2 separate regions of the Homo sapiens genome follow, and region 1 is linked to region 2. The links come from fine-mapping of genetic effects on gene expression. A gene starts in region 2. The other region holds a variant in brackets. All regions are shown on one strand. Distances are from middle to middle.

Region 1 (4,282 bases), 21 kb after region 2:
CTTTATAAACATAATCAAGTATGTACAGTTGACACCCTTGAAAAACATGGGGTTTAGAGTTACCTAAACACACAGCCCCCTCCCCATGCAGTTGAAAATCTGTATAACTTTTGACTCCCCAGAAACATAACTATGAATACCCTACTGTTGCCCAGAAGCGAAGTTGTATTCTTACAATAAAGTAAGCTAGAGAAAATAAAATGTTACTAAGAATATTATAAGAAAGAATATATTTACTATTTATTAAGTGGAGGTGGATCACCATGAAGGTCTTCATCCTCACCGTCTTCACATTGAGTACGCTGACAAGGGATTGGTCTTGCTGTCTCAGGGTGGCAGAGGCAGAAGTAAATTCCAGGATAAATGGACACACACAGTTCAAACTTGTGTTGTTCGGGGTCAAGAGCATCTATTTCTATCTTTATCTACCTATATATTGGTATACATATATAAAGCTTAATAGTAATTTTAATAGCAATGAAATCATTCTATTTGATATTTGTTGACTTTTCTGTTTAATGACTTGAATAATTTTTTATATATCGTTATACTTAGATTTATCTCATTCATTCCAGCTTTTTAATATTAGTAATAGCCATTGGTGATTTATACATATAATATTAAGTATGTTTTCAATCTTTTGTAGAGTGTGTTAATGGAAATAAAATTGCTAGATTAAGGGCATGTGCATTTAATATTTTAGTAGATAACACTAAAATATTTTTTTCACAAAGACAGTACCAATTTACACTCCCATCAAAAATGTATGGTTTTTTTATTTCTACCAATGCTTACCAACACTAGCTATGGTAAGCTTTCTAATATTTTCTAAACTGAGATAAAAGTTATTATTACAATTTTTTAAGGTGCAGTTTCTTAGTTATAAATAATTTAGGGTATGTTTACAAAATCGTATTCATTATTTTAACGTATGTGTAAGGGTGTGTGTGTGTGTGTCTGTGTGAATTTCCTGTTCATGTCCTTAACCAATTTTAGAAATTGAGTTGTTTTTCCTTAATCTCAAATTTATTTATATTAATTATCCATTTTAACAACCTAGAGTTATTCAAAAATCCATAGATGCTTTAGAGGATGGGGTTTAGTTTTGCCAATATTGTTTTCAGATAAGGAGTTTTCAAGAGAGAACTTTGGTAAGAAATACTGCAGAAGGCCGTAGAAGTTAATGGCTAAAGAAGATTTACCACTCAATATTCTTTCACCTGCACCAGGCAATTAGCACCCTACTCATTCAGTCAAGAATATCTTTGAAAAATAACATGAAGTTGAAGTTCATTCTTCTTTTAAAGCTCAATAGAATCCTCTCTTTCGCCTTATGAGCACTTTAGTTTTAAGTTCTTAGGCTTTTTTTTTTTTTTTTTTAAATACATTTGTGCAGCTTCCATGCTGAAATATTCAAGAAGAGTAAAACACATCAAACGTATTTAAAGATAATGCTTGGGCTTGTGACCTCTGTACATTTGAATATATTGTTTTTATGTGTTCTGAATAACTTTATTCCGAAATAAGTTTCCACATCATTCAGGTTTGTTAAAGTAGTTAACACAAGGCTATTAGCAACTTTTAATAATAAATATTATACTAGTTCTAAGTTGTTCATTAGACATATTTTCCTTGGAAAATATTAACAGTATAAACATTTCATGATTAATAATAAAAATATATAACTAAAAATATGTAATTTTATTTTTATTTATTTATTTATTTTGTTATTATTATTTCTTGAGACAGAGTTTCACTCTTGTTGCCCAGGCTGGAGTGCAGTGGCACAATCTTGGCTCACTACAACTTCTGCCTCCTAGGTTCAGGTGATTCTCCTGCCTCAGCCTCCCAAGTAGCTGGAATTACAGGCATGCGCCACCACGCCCAGCTAATTTTTTTGTATTTAGTAGAGGTGGGGTTTCACTGTGTTGGTCAGGCTGGTCTTGAACTCCTGACCGCAGGGTGATCCACCTGCCTCGGCCTCCCAAAGTGCTGGGATTACAGGTGTGAGCCACCGTGCCTGGCCA[T/G]GTTTGTTTGTTTTTTAGAGATGGCCTCTTGCTCTTTCACCCAGCCAAGAGTGTAGTGGCATGATCATAGCTCACTGCAGTGTCAAGCTCCTGGGCTCAAGTGATCCTACTGCTTCAGCCTCAGTAAGTATAAATATTATCCATAGTGATAATCACATAAAAGTAGATATAAATAGATTCATTAAAAGTATGAACAAGTTTATTTTAGGATATATGGCAAAGACTAAATGGAAAATTTCAACAAAATTTACCTTAATTAGAAAGTAATCTTTACAAAACATATTTAGATGTTAAAATGTTGTCTATGAGGGAGTTAGCCTGATGTAAATGCTTTGTACAGCAGCTATTTTAGAGATGAGTCTCCATTGCTTGATATGATTGTCTTTTTAAAGATGCTGAATATAGATTTTAAGTTCTCAGAAGAAATTTAATAAAAACCTATTTTATGGCTCTCATTGTATATATGGAGATATTTCTGGTCTATTGGTAAGTTTATCTGAACTGGTAACTGAAAATAACAAGTTTCAAGAAATAAACTCACATAATCAAAATATGATTCCCTTTAATAAACCATTCTATTTTTACAAGAGTTACCACTGTTTTTGAAGAAGTTAGATAATATACTAAACGAAGTTTTCAGTAGCTGTTTAATAGTAATAGATTAGGTGTGTGCATTTTATTTCCAGTATTTCATTGAGTAGAGACCTAAGTGATATTTTAATTCAAATTCAGAAAAATGAAGAAAACCAATTTTTTTATTAAACCTTATGTGTAAAATAAACTCTATCTTATAAAAAACAAAATGTTATTTGCTGATTCATGCAGAAAACATTGATGCCAGCTCATAACAATAAATGGAGAAAATTTGTTGTAATATTGATTTTTAATTTGAATTACTGAAGATAGCGCTAATGAAAACAAATCTGAAAAATATCACTCTCCATCTATCACTGAGTGGGGTCAGGAAATTACTTCCATCATTATTTGTCTTCATTATTTAATGTAATATGAAGAGTCATCTTGAATTTGGAGAAACATATCATTTCAAGGTGACTATAAAACACAAAGCCTTGGCCGGGAGTGGTGGCTCATGCCTGTAATCCCAGCACTTTGGGAGGCTGAGGCGGGCGGATCACGAGGTCAGGAGATCGAGACCATCCTGGCTAACACAGTGAAACCCCGTCTCTACTAAAAATACAAAAAATTAGCTGGGTGTGGTGGCGGGCACCTGTCGTCCCAGCTACTCAGGAGGCTGAGGCAGGAGAATGACATGAATCCGGGAGGCGGAGCTTGCAGTGAGCCAAGATGGTGCCACTGCACTCCAGCCTGGGTGACAGGGCGAGACTCCGTCTCAAAAAAAATAAAAAAATAAAATAAATAAATAAAATAAAACATGAAGCCTTTTTTCTGGTGCATGTTCTTTGAATGTTTGTTAGAAGGCAGTAAAATATGGAGGCTCAAGGCAATGAAGTTTGGTGCTTTAGACCAGTGCTTCTCAAACTTTAATATATCTGTGAATTACTTGGAGAGTAGGTCTGAAGGGACAGGGGCTTAGAATCTTTATTTCTTTATTTTTCTTTTTTTATTTCCATTTCAATGGGTTTTGCGGTACAAGTGGTTTTTGGTTACATGGATAAATTCTTCAGTGGTGATTTTTGAGATTATGGTGCACCCATCACCCAAGCAGTGTACGCTGTACCTAAAATGTACTATTTTATCCCTCACCCGCCTATCAATCTCTACCCCCAAATCCCCAAAGTCCACTATATCATTCTTATGCTTTTGTGTCCTCATAGCTTAGCTCCCACTTATAAGTGAGAACATATACTATTTAGTTTTCCATTTCTCAGTTAGGAATTCAATCCACTTAGTTCTGAGTTCACTTAGAATAATGGACTCTAGCTCCATCTAAGTTGCTGCAAAAGACATTATTTCATTCCTTTTTATGGCTGAGTAGTATAATTAAATAGTCAAAAACCAATAGATGTTGGCAGGGATGTTGGGAAAAGGGAACACTTCTGCACTGCTAGTGGGAATGTAAACTAGCACAACCACTATGGAAAACAGTATGTAGAATCCTTAAAGAACTAAAAGTAGAACTACCATTGAATCCAGCAATCTCATTACTGGGTATCCACCCAAAGGAAAAGAAGTCCTTACATGAAAAAGACATGCACACGCATGTTTATAGCAGTGCGATTCATAATTGCAAAGATATGGAACCAACCTAGGTGCCCATCAACCAATGAGTGGAT
Region 2 (4,282 bases):
CATAAATATTTTTGAATGTTTTTGCTACTAAAGTTTCACTATAACAAATCTCAAAGAAATAAAATATACTAATAGGACATTTATGCTCTTCAAGGAAGTTCTGATGGGAGCATTTAAGTCTGGCCCCAACCTGGGGACTACCTGCTTACTTATTGTCCCCGAGGTTATAGTCATACCCTGAGGTCAGTGGCTTCAATCTTTCTGTAGTTGCTGGTCAGCTGTGGGACAGAACTGAATCCACCTCACATTCTATGTTGGGTACAGCTGAAATTTAGTGAGTTCAGCTGGGCACAAAGCTGAGTAATTTTCAAATAGAATAAAGCAAAGCTGTAATCTATATCTTTTTCTTAAACACCCTCTGTACCTACCCATTAGTAATAAATTTGGCTGGGTGGTTAGAGTTTGGGATGTAGAAGTGACTCTAATATTTAAGAGATGAGTCTGCTAGTTTACTCTTTTTTAAAATAATTTTTGAATTTTGAAACTTAATTTCTAAATAACACTCTCTAAAGAATCTAGATCAAAAATTGTTATTTCATCAGGAGCATTAACTAAATAAACACTGTTAATAATAGCATTGAAAATTATTACACACCTATTGGCTCAAGCTTATGGCTTTTGGTAGAAGAAATAGCAGACCATAATTCAGATTTCATTCATTCATTCCCATCAAGAGGAAAGGGTTTGCCGATCTAAATTTGAGCAGGTTGGTGAAGTATGCATATGTCTTTACAAACTTATTTCATAGTTTCATTTAACAAATCTTCAGGTTCAATTTCACCCTCAATACATGCCTTATAGAGATAGATATCACAATTATTAGATGAATTTATGATTTTAGGGTTTGCATCATACCCATATATTCACAAGTTTATAAATTCTGTTTTTAAAACCATCAGATCTTGTGAGACTTACTATCATGAGAACAGCACAAGAAAGACCTGCCGCCATGATTCAGTTACCTCCCACCGGGTCCCTCCCACAACATGTGGGAATTCAAGATGAGATTTCGGTGGGGACACAGCCAAACTATATCAAGAGTTTAACTGACAACTGCAATCATCCCAGACACCTGACCCCACTTGCCTGTACCTTTCCTCGGAGGTCCAATAAAAATGCCTGAAGCTCAGTGTTCCATTTAGGGTTCCACTTTCTCACCAGGATGTCTGTACAAGAGATGCATAGTCTTACGGGAGAGTAAAGTATATATCTTTAAACAATTTGTTTACTATGATATTCTACTAAGTGCATTTATTATCTTGCTTTCTCTCCTACCAGCAAAGGAAAAAAAATCATCTTAAGTAAATTTTTATAGATGATACTATCCCAAATTCTTCAACAAATGTTTTCCTGTATAATTTTTAAAAGGTTTGTTAAATGATAATGCCTTACTGATAGATTGTTGTATAGAAACTTTACTGGAAGGGATTCAGGAATACTGAAGAATGGAAGAAATCACAGAGAAGTCCAGCTTCTGATTCACCTTTGTGGGTGATATGGTTAGGCTTTCATCTTGAACTGTAATCCCCATGTATCAAGGAAGGAACCTGATGGGAGGTGATTGGATCCTGGGGGTGGTTCCCCTATGCTGTTCTCTTGATAGTGAGTTCTCAGGAGAACTGATGGTTTTAAAAGTGGCTCTTCCTTCTTCACTCTGTCTCTCTCCTGCCACTATTTAAGATGTGACTTGCTTCCCCTTAGCCTTCTGCCATGATTGGAAGTTTCCTGAAGCCTCCCAGCCATGCGGAACTGTGAGTCAATTAAACCTCTTGATGTGGTTTGGCTGTGTCCCCACCGAAATCTCATCTTGAATTCCCACGTGTTGTGGGAGGGACGCGGTGGGAGGGTCTTTCCTATGCTGTTCCTAAGCTCACAAAATCTGATGGCTTTATAAACAGGAGTTTGCCTGCACAAGCTCTTTTTTTCTTTCTGGCCGCTGTCCACGTAAGATGTGACTTGCTCCTCTTTGCCTTCTGCCATGATTGTGAAGCTTCCTAAGCCACGTGGAACTGTGAGTTCTCCATTAAACTTCTTTCCTTTGTAAAGTGCCTAGTCTGGGTTATGTCTTTATCAGCAGCGTGAAAACGGACAAATACACCTCTTTTCTTTATAAATTGCCCAGTCTCAGGTAGTATCTTTGTAGCAGTGTGAGAACAGACTAATACAGTGGGCATGTTCTGCTCCATACAATCTGACACTTGATTATAAAGTAATTGTTCGCTGTACGTTCTTTTATCTCAGAATAACCTGTTTTCTAATTAGTGCTTTATAGAGTGTTATAAAGTGTTATAAAGTGTTACAGAGTGTTACTTTAGCCTTTGCTTGCTGCAAAAGAAAAATTGGGCCAGAAATTGGCTATATATCTATCGGATCTCCCTCCCTCCCTTTCTATCTCCCTTTCTCTCTCTGACGAATCTAATCTGTGAACGATGGCATTTGAAAGCAAAGCAAAATGCAAAATACGCAAAAATAAAAGTTCTCTGGTGTTAGAAGACAGAAGAATCTTTTGAAAATTTAATTAAAAATTAAATTACCAGGCCTCTTCCTTAGAAATTCTGATGTGGTAAGTCTGAGCTGGTATCCAGGAATTTCCACTAAATAAGCTTCCTTGTAATTCCATTGCAGGTGATTCTTCTACTCATGTTAAAAACACTGGCTTAGGGAATCTGTATTAGGGATTATTCTGGTTGGCAGAATTTACCTATTTTCTAGCTATTCTACTGATATTTCCAGAACTGGTGGTCTATGATAAAGCATTTGAAACTTAAGTATTCGATTCTGGCTATTTGAAACTCACATTTTTCCCAGAAGGGCATTATTGTCCTATTATGAACCCAACAGCCATTCCTGCTTTCCTTTTTATTGACTTTTGCTTGACCTACTCAGAAATAACTATTATTTGGGTCCAGCGAGGCCCCAGGCTGTTACATATTTAGCACTTCTTTCTCCAACTCTAAGCCATCCAGCTTGGCTTAGCTATATAAAAAGCTCTTTCTCACAGCGGTGTTTCTGCCTGGTTGTTTATTTAGTGCATATCAGTTCACTGTTGCTTGCTGAATTGTTTCTTTTTGCTTGGCAGAGATGTTAAGTTCCCTGCTCCTATTGCTACATATTATCTGCAGCTTTCAGCCAAAATTATTAAGCAGATTTTGTTTAGTGAAGCTACATTTATTTAAAACAATTTTCTTTACCTGCAATCATTTGACTTTTTCATGATGTTCCTGCCTGATTTGCTTGAGATTTTTAATGATAATTCACCAAATAGTATACGGGAAGGTGGTTTATAAAATCATGTAGGTATTTGAATGGTTCAAAGGATTTTACTGTTCCTTCCACCCCAACATGTACCTCTTTTCATTGTAATTTGCTTGTGTGTGTGTGTGTGTGTGTGCGTGTGTGTTTTCATCCCTTCTCAGTTCTTGAAAAAGAAGTTGTGCCACATAATTAGTGGCCATTTAAGTCAGAGGTAATTTTTGGTTTACAGTAGCCATATGTCCTGATGGCACAGTTATTTCAAATACATTATTCAATTTTCTTCATGAATGTATTCATAGTTAATATGAGCGAGTCCTGAATTACGGGTGAGGGTTTATTTTCACCATTGCTCAATTTCAACAATTTGTGTTAATTCTACCTTCTAAACATCTCATGTATTCTCTCCTTTCCGTCCCAGTTGTCACTGCCTTAGTAAGCTGTCACTGTATTCTGCGGTGGACCATTAGGGGCCTGAACCTGAACTTCTATTTGCCCTCTGGATTACTCTGTTTAAATTCTTCCACTACACTTGAGTGATCCTGGACAATCTGCCTTCTCATGCCTCTGTGTCAGTGGTCCCCAACCTTTTTGGCACCAGTGACTGGGTTTGTAGAAGACAATTTTTCCATAGACTGGGGTGGGGGGAAATTGTTTCAGGATGATTCAAGTGCATTACATTTGTTGAGCACTTTATTTCTATTACATTGTAATATATAGTGAAATAATTATGCAATTCACCGTGAAGTAGAATCAGTGGGAGCCCTGAACTTGTTTTCCTGCAATCAGATGGTCACATCCGGGGGTGATGGGAGATAGTGACAGATCATCAGGCACTAGATTCTCATAAGGAGCTCGCAACCTAGCTCCCTCACATGTGCACTTCAAATAGGGTTTGTATTTGCTCTTAATAGAATCCAGTGCTGCTGCTGATCTGACAGGAGTTAGAGCTCAGGAGGTAATGCCAGTGATGGAGAGTGGCTGTAAATATAGATGAAGCTTTGTCCACTTGCTAGCCGCTCACCTCCTG

Direction of the effects. Alleles are on the strand shown, and positions count from the first base shown. SD is a standard deviation of normalised expression in the study named.
With allele T in place of G in region 1, the expression in gastroesophageal junction of the gene that starts at base 1,704 in region 2 is lower (moderate effect, 0.56 SD a copy in GTEx).

What was found. PIP is the estimated chance that this variant, and not a neighbour inherited with it, causes the effect.
Region 1: its variant is the best candidate, but not a certain one, in a credible set for the expression of LINC02147 in gastroesophageal junction (GTEx, PIP 0.85).

What each region holds. Positions count from the first base shown.
Region 1 is chr5:117,749,757-117,754,038 of GRCh38, forward strand. The region is part of intron 1 of LINC02147 (long intergenic non-protein coding RNA 2147); the gene reads left to right. Among named protein-coding and RNA genes, the nearest start is that of LINC02147, 22 kb to the left of the region's middle. The variant T/G (reference allele first, on the strand shown) is at 2,028.
Region 2 is chr5:117,728,658-117,732,939 of GRCh38, forward strand. It overlaps LINC02147 (long intergenic non-protein coding RNA 2147), which reads left to right and starts at 1,704. Exons shown (of 3, transcript NR_104997.1): 1 at 1,704-1,751.